2 separate regions of the Homo sapiens genome follow, and region 1 is linked to region 2. The links come from fine-mapping of genetic effects on gene expression. A gene starts in region 2. The other region holds a variant in brackets. All regions are shown on one strand. Distances are from middle to middle.

Region 1 (5,372 bases), 31 kb after region 2:
CTTTCAGGGATTATGGTCTTGTGCTGCTTTTTATCCAATGTCTGAAAACTGTTGTTTCATATTTTGTTTTGTAGTTGTTTAAGGTGGGAAAGTAAATCTAGTCATTGTTACTCCATCATGGCTGGAAGCAGAAGTTGCCGTGTATATTGTCTAAAGTGGATTTATGCCAGTGGTTCTCAGGCAGATTTTATGGTTGTTTGTTTTTATCCTTACTATTGTCATTTCTTTGATTTTTTTCTTCTTACCCACTCTTAACTGATTCAGCCCTCCTCAACAGAAGTGAGAAAGAGAAAGTCATTTGAGCATTGTCTAAATACAGGGCACTTTAGGTACTGGGAAAAAAAATTTGTTCCTACCTTCATACAGATTTTGCATCAAATAAACAACACATAGGAAAGCAGTGAAAGGTTGAAGAAGAAAGGCTAGGGCCATTGAAAATTGTCCCTGTTTCTTTCTTTTTTTTTTTTTTTTTTTTTTTATTATTATTATATATTTTTTTGAGACAGAGTCTCACTCTGTTGCCCAGGCTGGAGTGCAGTGGCACGATCTCGGCTCACTGCAACCTCCACCTCCCAGGTTCAAGCGATTCTCCTGCTTCAGCCTCCCAAGTAGCTGGGACTACAGGCGCGTGCTACCATGCCTGGCTAATTTTTTGTATTTTTAGTAGGACGGGGTTTCACCGTGTTAGCCAAGATGGTCTCGATCTCCTGACCTCGTGATCCGCCTGCCTTGGCCTCCCAAAGTGCTGGGATTACAGGCGTGAGCCACCGCACCCGGCTGAAAATTGTCCCTATTTCTTAACTACAATAGTGAAAAACAGAATCGCAGAAGTGGTTATGAGTTAAGACTACTTAGAAATAAGAATGGAATCAGTGACAGAGAGGGAAAAGCATGGGTGAATAGGAGAGAAGACTAAGTGAAGAAGAGGGAAATTGGTGTTTAAGGAAGAAAATGGGAGAGGATGAGCTCAGACTCAGGTGAAGGAGAAAGCTTGTTTCAGTTGGAATGTTGGTCTGTTGTGAGGGCTAGTGCTCTAGGAGATCAAATAGCAGCCATTGGGACATGATCTGGTGGCATAGTGCAAAGAATATCTGCTCCCAGGCAGGGCGCGGTGGCTCACACCTGTAATCCCAGCACTTTGGGAGGCTGAGGCAGGTTATTCACCTGAAGTCAGGAGTTCTAGACCAGCCTGACCAACATGGCAAAACCCTGTCTCTACTAAAAATATAAAAATTAGCCAGGCATGGTGGCATGCGCCTGTAATCCCAGATACTCGGGAGGCTGAGGCAGGAGAATCACTTGAACCTAGGAGGCAGAGGTTGCAGTGAGCGAAGATTGTGCCACTGCACTCCAGCCTGGGCAACAGAGCAAGACTCTGTCTCAAAAAAAGAAGAAAGAATATATGGAAAATACAGAAGATTGATTTGACTTTGTCATGTCATTTCTCTTAGTTCCTGCGACCTGAAATACACAGAAGGAGTACAGTCCCTCAACTGGACTAAAATCATGAAGACCATTGTTGATGACCCTGAGGGCTTCTTCGAACAAGGTGGCTGGTCTTTCCTGGAGCCTGAGGGTGAGGTGCGTGAGTGTGGGGTTTCTTTTCTGGTACACAGTGTTGCCCGCTATCATTTGGTCAGTTAGAATGGAATATGAGTAGTACATAAGGGACTAGGCCATCTGGGAGAAGCTCTAAACACCACTTGATATTATTGTTTCTTCAAATTGATAAATTGATTGGGCAGTGGTAACTAACTCCTGACAAGATTTCTTGGAAATTACAAAAACTTTTCCTCAATGAGTTTCTTAGCATTTAGGGAAAAATCCTTCAGGGCATTTTGCAAAAATTATTTTTTAAAAAATGATCCACTTAACGTTTGTGTGATACGTAAATACAGAAAGTCTTTCTGTTGTTAATTTCCCTGGGTGAGGAAGGCTAACGTGAATTTTTCAGAAATGTAATAATACATAATAATAGTAAAATAATAATTGCACCTGACCACTAATTTTAAACAAGTCATTTTATCTCTTGATCCCTCAGATTATTTTGCTCTTGTTTTCTTCATGTAAATACTGGTATACTATGTGGGCTGAATTAATTCATTAAGTTAATAAGGTAAATGTCAAAAAAAAATCAGTATTATGCTCTAACTCACCAGGGGAGTGATGCTGAAGAAGGGGATTCAGAGTCTGAAATTGAAGATGAGACTTTTAATCCTTCAGAAGATGACTATGAAGAGGAAGAGGAGGACAGTGATGAAGATTATTCATCAGAAGCAGAAGAGTCAGGTTAGTCTTACAGAGCAAAGTTCGTCCTGGCTTCCTAATCTAATGTCATTTCTGAAAACTACTTTTTTTAGACTAAGAACTCTGTCGTTCCATTCTGTTCCCGCATGATGACTAACGCTTAATTAATTTTCTTCCAGACTATTCTAAGGAGTCATTGGGTAGTGAAGAAGAGAGTGGAAAGGATTGGGATGAACTGGAGGAAGAAGCCCGAAAAGGTTTTTAAAAATGTGTTGTTTTTTATTCATTTGTCTACGCACAAATTTCTAACACATTTCAATATTTTGAGGTGTTAGTATTGATGGCGTAATGAAAGTAACAAAAGAACACTATAAAAGTGCTTTGGAGCCACAGATACAACTTCATTGACTGAAGGAGAAAATGAGGTGTGGAATGTGTCCATACTCTCCAGTGGGCAGTGCTCTGCCAAACTGGATGCTGTTTTCATCTGCGCAAGCCCCCATCTTTCCTATAGCCATGATAGCCACATATTCATGTAATACTCAAGAATTAGCCTACTCAGTTTCCAAACCTAAATCCTATAATACTTTAATTTTCTAGGCTTCTTCCAGGTTAGGCATGTCTTTATAATGCTAATCTAGTTACTCTGAAGCCAAACCCCAAACAAACGTTTTAAAGCTTAAAAGGAAATAAATATTAACTGCTGTGTTCCAAGCATTGGGAATAGGTAGTTTTCATAGGTTACCTTATTTAACCCTTAAATAATTCTCCCTTTTGTAAATAAACCAAGGTTCAGAAAGTACTTGCCCAATATTAAAACTTGGGTCTGATTCCAAAGTGTATTCTCTGTACTATCTCATGCTATCCAGTAATATTAGGTACCTAAAGCTTACCTATTGCTAACTAATAATGCCTCTTCTATTTAGCGGACCGAGAAAGTCGTTACGAGGAAGAAGAAGAACAAAGTCGAAGTATGAGCCGGAAGAGGAAGGCATCTGTGCACAGTTCGGGCCGTGGCTCTAACCGTGGTTCCAGACACAGCTCTGCACCCCCCAAGAAAAAGAGGAAGTAACTTCTGAACTTTGGCCCTGAGCTCCATTCTTCCTCCAGCCAACCCCTGAAAATTTTACATGACATAGAAACTGTATTTTTCCTTTCGTTTTCATTTGAAGTTTTGCCATTTGTGTTTATGGGTTTAGGGGGCCATTTGTGTGGACCAATCTACTCGGGGAAT[T/G]CCAGGCCCACCAGGACACGTGCCAATGGCCCCATTCAGATGGCAAGGGAGGAGGTGTTCTTGAAGACAGGAGGAGGCTCCCGCTGTTAATAAATATTGTTTCATTCTTCTCTCTTCCTGTCACCTTCTGCCAAGACATTGATGGCTTCTGACATCTTATTTGGTGTCTCAAAGCTGTATTTCCAAGACAGTGGTACAAGGTGACCCTTAATTACCCGTATCATGGTTCTTGACCAGCACATTCAATCCTCCAACCTACCCTACTGCCATGACCTTCCGCACATCTCTAAGTTTTATCTTTGCAATACTCAAGGTTCTCGGAAATTTGCTAATGGTTGTGATAAACCATACAGCTTGAGCCAGTGAGGCAGATTGGGCTGGTGCCTTCGTCTGAGTTTTCCTGCTTTCCTGCCTCGTGCAGATTCTGAGGTATATCTGCTGCCTTGGAAGACATAAGAAGCAGTGATACTCCCTGGCTCGGTTATTTTCTCCATACAATGCACACATGGTACAATGATAGAAGGCAAAATTGCCACTGTCTTCTTTTTTTTCTCATATATCTAAGGAAGATATATCAGGTTGTGCCTCATGTACCGCTTCTAGTGAAATGTAGAGGAAGGCTCAAAGGAGTCAACATTTATATCTGGAAGGGACAAGTCATGCCTTGGGCCTAGAATACCCTGATGAGAAAAGAGAAGAGGAAGGGAGGCCATATCTACAACACAGCCTCTCGGCACTGCTGCTCCTTATTTTAACTTTGTCTTGCATTGTCCTGTATTTATCACAGTTTCTGTTGAACAGCTTTTCAAGTATTTGGGGAGTTTATCTTGCCATCCTCCCCTTCTGGTTCTCTGCACCCACCTGTCCCACTGCAGTTCCTTCCGTGCTCTGTGACTTTAAGAGAAGAAGGGGGGAGGGGTCCCGGATTTTATGTTTGTTTGTTTTTTCTCCTTAGCAGTAGGACTTGATATTTTCAATTTTGGAAGAACTAAAAGATGAATAAACTGGGTTTTTTTTGTTGTTTGTTTTTGTAAATTCACCTGTGACCGTTCATTTTCAGTTCTTGAAAGCAAGCCTGCTTCCTGCCTGGTAAAGTGCTAAGGTACTGGAGAAAAATGCCTTTAGCTAGCTAGTTTTACAAATGAAACTTTCATCATTCTAAACTTTCATCATTAGATTGAGAGACACTAGACATCACAGTAAACCAAATTCATGTTATAGCAAGCTAACTTTATAAGAGACTTTTTACTATGGTTCCCTCAGAGACTTTTAGATTGGAATAGCACTTGTTCCTTCATGAAAACAAATCTTCAGTCATCTCCTTGTAAATAGCATGGAGGACAGCAGCTGCTTGAAGGGAAACCTTCAGCCTTCCTATTGGGGTAGCCAGATCTTCAGGGCTAACAACTGTTGGGAAAGGGAAAAAAACAGCATCACTCAGTTGAACACTTTGATACTTGGTATTTGTCAGGTTAGGTACTGGGGATGCTAAATGAATGAAATTACCCATTTCATAAGAGGACTCAATCTAGTGAAGGAGAAAGGAAAATGGTATAGTGTATAGGTGCTATATAATAAATGGAAGCACAAGTTGCTTTGGGGACATAACGAGGCATCTGCACCAGAATGGACAAATTGGAAAGGATTTCTGGAGAAATCACCAGAAAAGTCTTAAGTGGATTTTCCCTGTGCACATACAAATGGCATGGAGGTCAGGAAGAACATAGCATGTTTAGGAATGGGGATAGGAGTGAGTTGGAAAATAGCCCACAAAGATAACGTCACTTGCCTTATGCCAGGCACTACCCTAAGCCCCTTAATCCCTTATTTAAGTGCTTCCTTAATCTTCACAACTCAGTAAGATAGAGACTGCTGTTATTCCCGTTTTATA
Region 2 (5,376 bases):
ATAGAATTGACAGTGAATCTAGCACTACGTTATTCTTGGGACCTGCAGGAATAACTTCTATCTTCAATGAACTTAATCAGAATTTTTAGTCAGAACATCTAGAAGAAGCCATTTAAAATTCAGATATGTAAGTTTTTTATCAATGTGGAACAAAAATTATTTTATTAAATTTAGTGAGGAGTTTCTGACAGTTTTTTGGTGTTCTAGACATGTAGAAATCTTTATCTGATCTGTCTTGAATTTACCCTGCTTTGATGTGCTAATAGAGGATATTATTGTAAATGTCAATTCACATAGTAAGAACAAGTGAACAACTTGCCATCAGGAGACACGAGTGATTTTTTTTTTTTTTTTGAGACGGAGTCTCGCTGTCGCTCAGGCTGGAGTGCAGTGGCGCGATCTCGGCTCACTGCAAGCTCTGCCTCCCGGGTTCACACCATTCTCCTGCCTCAGCCTCCCGAGTAGCTGTGGGACTACAGGCGCCCGCCACCTTGCCCAGCTAATTTTTTGCATTTTTAGTAGAGACCGGGTTTCACCGTGTTAGCCAGGATGGTCTCGATCTCCTGACCTTGTGATTCCCCCGCCTCGGCCTCCCAAAGTGCTGGGATTACAGGCGTGAGCCACCGCGCCCGGTCACAAGTGATTTTTTTTATGTGCATTTACTAATTCATTGTCTTACCCAGACCCCTTCTTAACAAAGGTAAGCATTTGTGAAATGGTTGACTAAAGTAAAGATACAATATAGTCATGGGGAAAAGAAGCAAAAACTGGTTAATATGAGTTTCGGTACAAAATCATTGATCTTAACTTTAGTATCAGAATGTTTCAACCAGCTAAGTCCAGCATTTCCTCCTTCCCATTACCACCAATCAAGCCTAGTATCGCTGTGCTTGTTTTGCCTCTTCTAAGGTACATTCAGTAAAAAAGCATTGTAAGCTAGGACTCTGTTGGCTTTGGTTTCTTTTCTTTTTTCCCCTTTCTTTCTTTTTATTATCTTCTATTCCCTCCTCCTAGGGTCATCACACTGAAACGGTGTTCAACCGGGTTTTGCCAGGGCCTATTGCACCAGAGAGCAGCAAGAAGCGGGCCCGTAGGATGCGACCAGACCTTTCTAAGATGATGGCCCTCATGCAGGGTGGAAGCACTGGGTCTCTATCTCTGCATAACACGTTCCAACACAGCAGTAGTGGCCTACAGTCTGTGTCATCTTTGGGTCACAGCAGTGCCACTTCTGCATCTTTGCCTTTTATGCCATTTGTGATGGGTGGTGCACCATCATCCCCTCATGTAGACTCCAGCACCATGCTTCATCACCACCACCACCACCCCCACCCCCACCATCACCACCATCACCATCCAGGCTTGAGAGCCCCTGGCTACCCCTCTTCACCAGTGACTACCGCCTCTGGTACTACCTTGCGGTTGCCACCACTGCAACCTGAGGAGGATGACGATGAGGATGAAGAAGATGATGATGACTTATCTCAGGGCTATGATAGCTCAGAAAGGGACTTCTCACTCATTGATGATCCTATGATGCCAGCTAACTCAGACTCCAGTGAAGATGCTGATGACTGAAGCCCCAGCATGGGCCCCATTGCTTGGGCGGCTGCTGTATTTTCATTTACTCTGGCCCTTGGACTATGGAAACGTGGGAGGGGCAGGGGAGATGTGGGGAAGTCCAGGACTCCAGGAGGTGAAAAGGAAAAAAAAAAAAAAATGTACCTGATTGCTCCCAATTATGAGAGGATTGGGTGGGCAGGGGAACTCCTAAAATAATACATGACCACTTCCTCATTTCTGGGGAAGGAAAGGAGACTAGAGCAGCTGGTGTGCTCACCCCTCCCTAGTCACCTCCATTAACCACAGACTATGTAGCGCTGGCCCTAGCCTCTGGCAGAGCCTGTTCCTGGCCGAACTGTGGATACAGCTGGAGGGTCAGGAACTGTTACCTTCTTTCCCCTTGGCATTAATAAATTTAAGTTAATCCTTTTCCACTCTTCCTTTGTTCTATGTTTGCTCAAACCCAGTGTATTGATTTTGAGTTGTTAATGGTGGGTAATTTCAGCACCACTTTCCTTAAGTTCAATACTGTTTATACTAAATTGCCTTACAGCAGACAAGTCATCTGTACTCCTCTAAAGGGTATATACAAATGTAGACTGTCCAGCTGGCTAAAGGCAAGGGAATTATTTAAGGTAAATGGTAGGTAGGCAAACTTCTGGATTCAAACTCCAAGTTTTTAGAAGAGACAGGGAGCAAGAATGTCATCAGGAACCATTTATGTTTTGTTTCTAATTAACTGAAGTAACGGTTATTTGGGGGAAGCCATAGAATAGTGCCAGTTTTCATGAACTGCAGCAAGGGGACTGGCCGACTGGAAGGATGCTGCCGCGACTTGGGCTCAGGGGGTGGGGTTGTGGGAAGGAACTAAAAGTTTGTAGAGCCCCTCAAGTCATCTGTTTCCTCTGACTTACACCATCCCACTGCTCAGTTAAAGCTTGCGCATATTATTTTCCTTTCGAAAACTAGGTTCCTCCCCCAGCTTGGGTCGTAGTTTATCACGAGGCTGGGCTCCATTTCCCTGGTATGAGTCCTCTGTCCCGGCGGAGCGCTTGACCCAGCATCCTGGCACCGAGGATCCCTCGAGTCCTGGAGCAGTCAAGGGCTTTTGCATTCCCATCATTTCTAGGAGGGGCGCATGCCCAGTTACACTGTAGTAGTCCCACTTTTATCCCACGCTAGATCCCGCTCTTTCCGCTCCCCCTTCCTTTGCAGATGGGGTGGAGCTATAACACCCGCGCGCGGCAGCTCTTGTGGGCGGGGCAGGCGCCGCCTCCTTCGCTTCGTCTAGGGACTGCCGCCTCGGCAAAAAGTCTGAGGTCCTGGAAACCGCCGCTGGGCTGAGAGTTAATAAGGGCGGAGGCAGACCGTCACGTGACGACGTCGATTCGCGTGCGGCAGTGGCGAAGTTGACAAACCCCGCGAAAATCGACTCTTTGCATCGCACATTTTGTTGATTTTCCCTCGTTTTTCTTTCTCTCTTTCCCCCGTCCATCCGAAAGAGGGTTGGAAAAAAACAAAACAAACAAACAAACAAAAAAAAAACCTAACGCTGTTGGGACCCGGAAGCGGAAAGGGCATCTTTGAGGTCGATACTTCCGGGTCATTGGGAGAGTGCGGGATTCCTGGGCCGAGAGCGGGTGGCTGAGCCGGGACCTCGCGTGATTCTCGGAACCCGAGGAGAAGCGGCGTCCGGGGCTATGGCTGTGACTCTGGACAAAGACGCTTATTATCGGCGAGTGAAGAGACTGTACAGCAATTGGCGGGTGAGGAAGATCCTGTAATTTTTCCTAGGGAGCCCCCTTAGCCATCCCATAATAACCCTGTTTCTCGGCGCCCTTTTTTCTCTTTCGGTCAGGAATTCCCGGGTTCTGTGCCTCACCCTTTTCGTTGCTCCCGAATCATTCACCGGAGGCGGCCACGAACGCTGCCCCTTAACAGGGAATCCCCCGCATTCACCCTGTCCTGCGGCCATCACCATCTTCCCCGCGTGCCAGCCTTGGTCATGCATAGCAGCACCTCTCGCAGTCTCTTCCCGCCCTAGAAGAGGCAACATCCTTCCCTCCTACTCCGTGGTCACGTCTTGCTGCCCTCCCCTGCCGTGTTCTCACGCACTCGCTCTGTCCCTCCAGAACCACAATATTCCACCCCTGGTCCCGCCAGGATTATAACCGTCTTCGTAAAGGAGAGATGGAAGGGCAAGGAGGATGTCAATCGGGCTTTTAGCGTTTATCGTTTGCGGGGCTTTTGCTGGAGTTAAAAAAAGAAATACTGCTCACGCGCAACCGCCTCATGTTCTAGGCCCTGCTGTGGGTTACAGAGAGGGACCTAACGCTGAAAGCCTGCAGGCATTAGTAATAACAAAACAAAACAAAACGATGCCTAAAACCTTATTAGTTCCTTGGTAGCGTATCCGGGGCACGTGTTCATTAAAAGAGCTGTGGCAGTTCCCAGTTTTTTAAAGATTCGGCAGTTTTGCTGCTCTAAAAACGTCCACAGTTAAAACTTATTTTTATGATGTTAACTTACTAATTGAGCAAACATTTGGTTGCATTCTGTGATGCAGTCTGAGTTGGCTAGCTTAAGTCTTGCCCCTGAACCCTGTCATCAAGGGAAGATACAGCTAATAAAGATTTTTTTTTAACCTGAAAAACGTTTTGAGAAAAATGATCAGCTCTCATTTCAGCATTGTAAATTATCTTTCAAACTGGTCATCTACTAAAACCAAGCCATTAAAATTGGTCGTTTCCTTGCCATTCATATTAAAGCTGTCTGTGCATGTTTCATCTTTTGGGGCTAAATACATTAGATAATTGAAAATAAAATTGATTCTCTTGCATTTTATGAAAAGGAAAAATAAGAACTAAATGCTAGATGAATACTGAACATTTTATTTTTTTTAATTTTTTGATTAATTTCTACCAAATGATTTTTTGCAGCTTCTCTCAGTGTCATATTATTCAAACATAATCGATGTTAGAAAAACATTTTAAAACCTTGATACTTTCTAATGATCAGTAAGTACTAAAAATCCGAAGCCCTCTCTTGTACCCATAAACCCTGAAACTGTGAACCTTTGGTATGAAAATTGTTTCTAGTCCCAGTGATTCAGATTCATCAAATAATTTCATTCTCTCTATACCATTCATGAAAACTAATCTATAGCTCTCACTTCCTCTACATGACAAATTAACTGTGGCCTGAAGACAGGTTGGCAAACCTAATAAAACTGATAGTCTTTAAATCCATGAAAGTTATTTCCCACCCACCATTTTTTTTTGTATCTCAAAAATCTTTAAAGTTTATCTTGGCCCTCTTACTACCTTAATGACATCATCTTGGGAGAATGTTAGATATTGATAAGACACTGATGGTGTAAAGTTATGAGCCAAATCTATGTAAAAATGTACCAGTTAACAAAACCTGTGGCTATTATGAAAAACTTACTTGAATAAGACTTTCTGCTTTTGTGTTAATGTGTCCAGAACCCACCTGTAGAAGTTCTTTGTGTATGCAGTCTTTTCACCCTACAGTGCTTTCATTCTGATACACTTAATCAGAGATAGTAGTTTTCTGGGTTAAATCTAGTCGCTTATCCTCCTGGATATAGCAGAAAGATAGTGGGATATATAGGTGTGTTGTATAACTTTTCTCTTTTACACCTTTTCCTTTTTTTAATAAGAAAACTGGGATTGAAATAGAATAAGTTGAAGTTAATGGTAAAAATTCCAAACCTGGCTGGGCACCGTGACTCATGCCTGTACCCAGCACATGAGGCCAGGAGTTAAAGACCAGCCTGGGCAAGATGATGAG

Alleles and levels. Positions count from the first base shown, and alleles are read on the strand shown. Sizes are in standard deviations (SD) of each study's normalised expression.
In carriers of allele T in region 1, the expression in skeletal muscle of the gene that starts at base 3,172 in region 2 tends to be lower than with G alone (small effect, 0.31 SD a copy in GTEx).

What was found. PIP is the estimated chance that this variant, and not a neighbour inherited with it, causes the effect. A credible set is the group of variants that fine-mapping cannot tell apart.
Region 1: its variant is the best candidate, but not a certain one, in a credible set for the expression of SUPT16H in skeletal muscle (GTEx, PIP 0.72).

The regions. Positions count from the first base shown.
Region 1 is chr14:21,350,620-21,355,991 of GRCh38, reverse strand. It overlaps RPGRIP1 (RPGR interacting protein 1), which reads right to left. Exons shown (of 25, transcript NM_020366.4): 25 at 4,691-4,888. The coding sequence ends at 4,776. It overlaps SUPT16H (SPT16 homolog, facilitates chromatin remodeling subunit), which reads left to right. Exons shown (of 26, transcript NM_007192.4): 23 at 1,452-1,581; 24 at 2,160-2,289; 25 at 2,427-2,504; 26 at 3,174-4,516. The coding sequence ends at 3,319. Among named protein-coding and RNA genes, the nearest start is that of SUPT16H, 31 kb to the left of the region's middle. RefSeq lists an enhancer at 2,809-4,008. The variant T/G (reference allele first, on the strand shown) is at 3,482.
Region 2 is chr14:21,381,815-21,387,190 of GRCh38, reverse strand. SUPT16H (SPT16 homolog, facilitates chromatin remodeling subunit) reads left to right here and starts at 3,172. Exons shown (of 26, transcript NM_007192.4): 1 at 3,172-3,329. The coding sequence starts at 3,264. It overlaps CHD8 (chromodomain helicase DNA binding protein 8), which reads left to right. Exons shown (of 38, transcript NM_001170629.2): 38 at 1,015-1,992. The coding sequence ends at 1,578. LOC107984643 (a long non-coding RNA gene) reads right to left here and starts at 2,918. Exons shown (of 2, transcript XR_001750627.2): 1 at 2,478-2,918.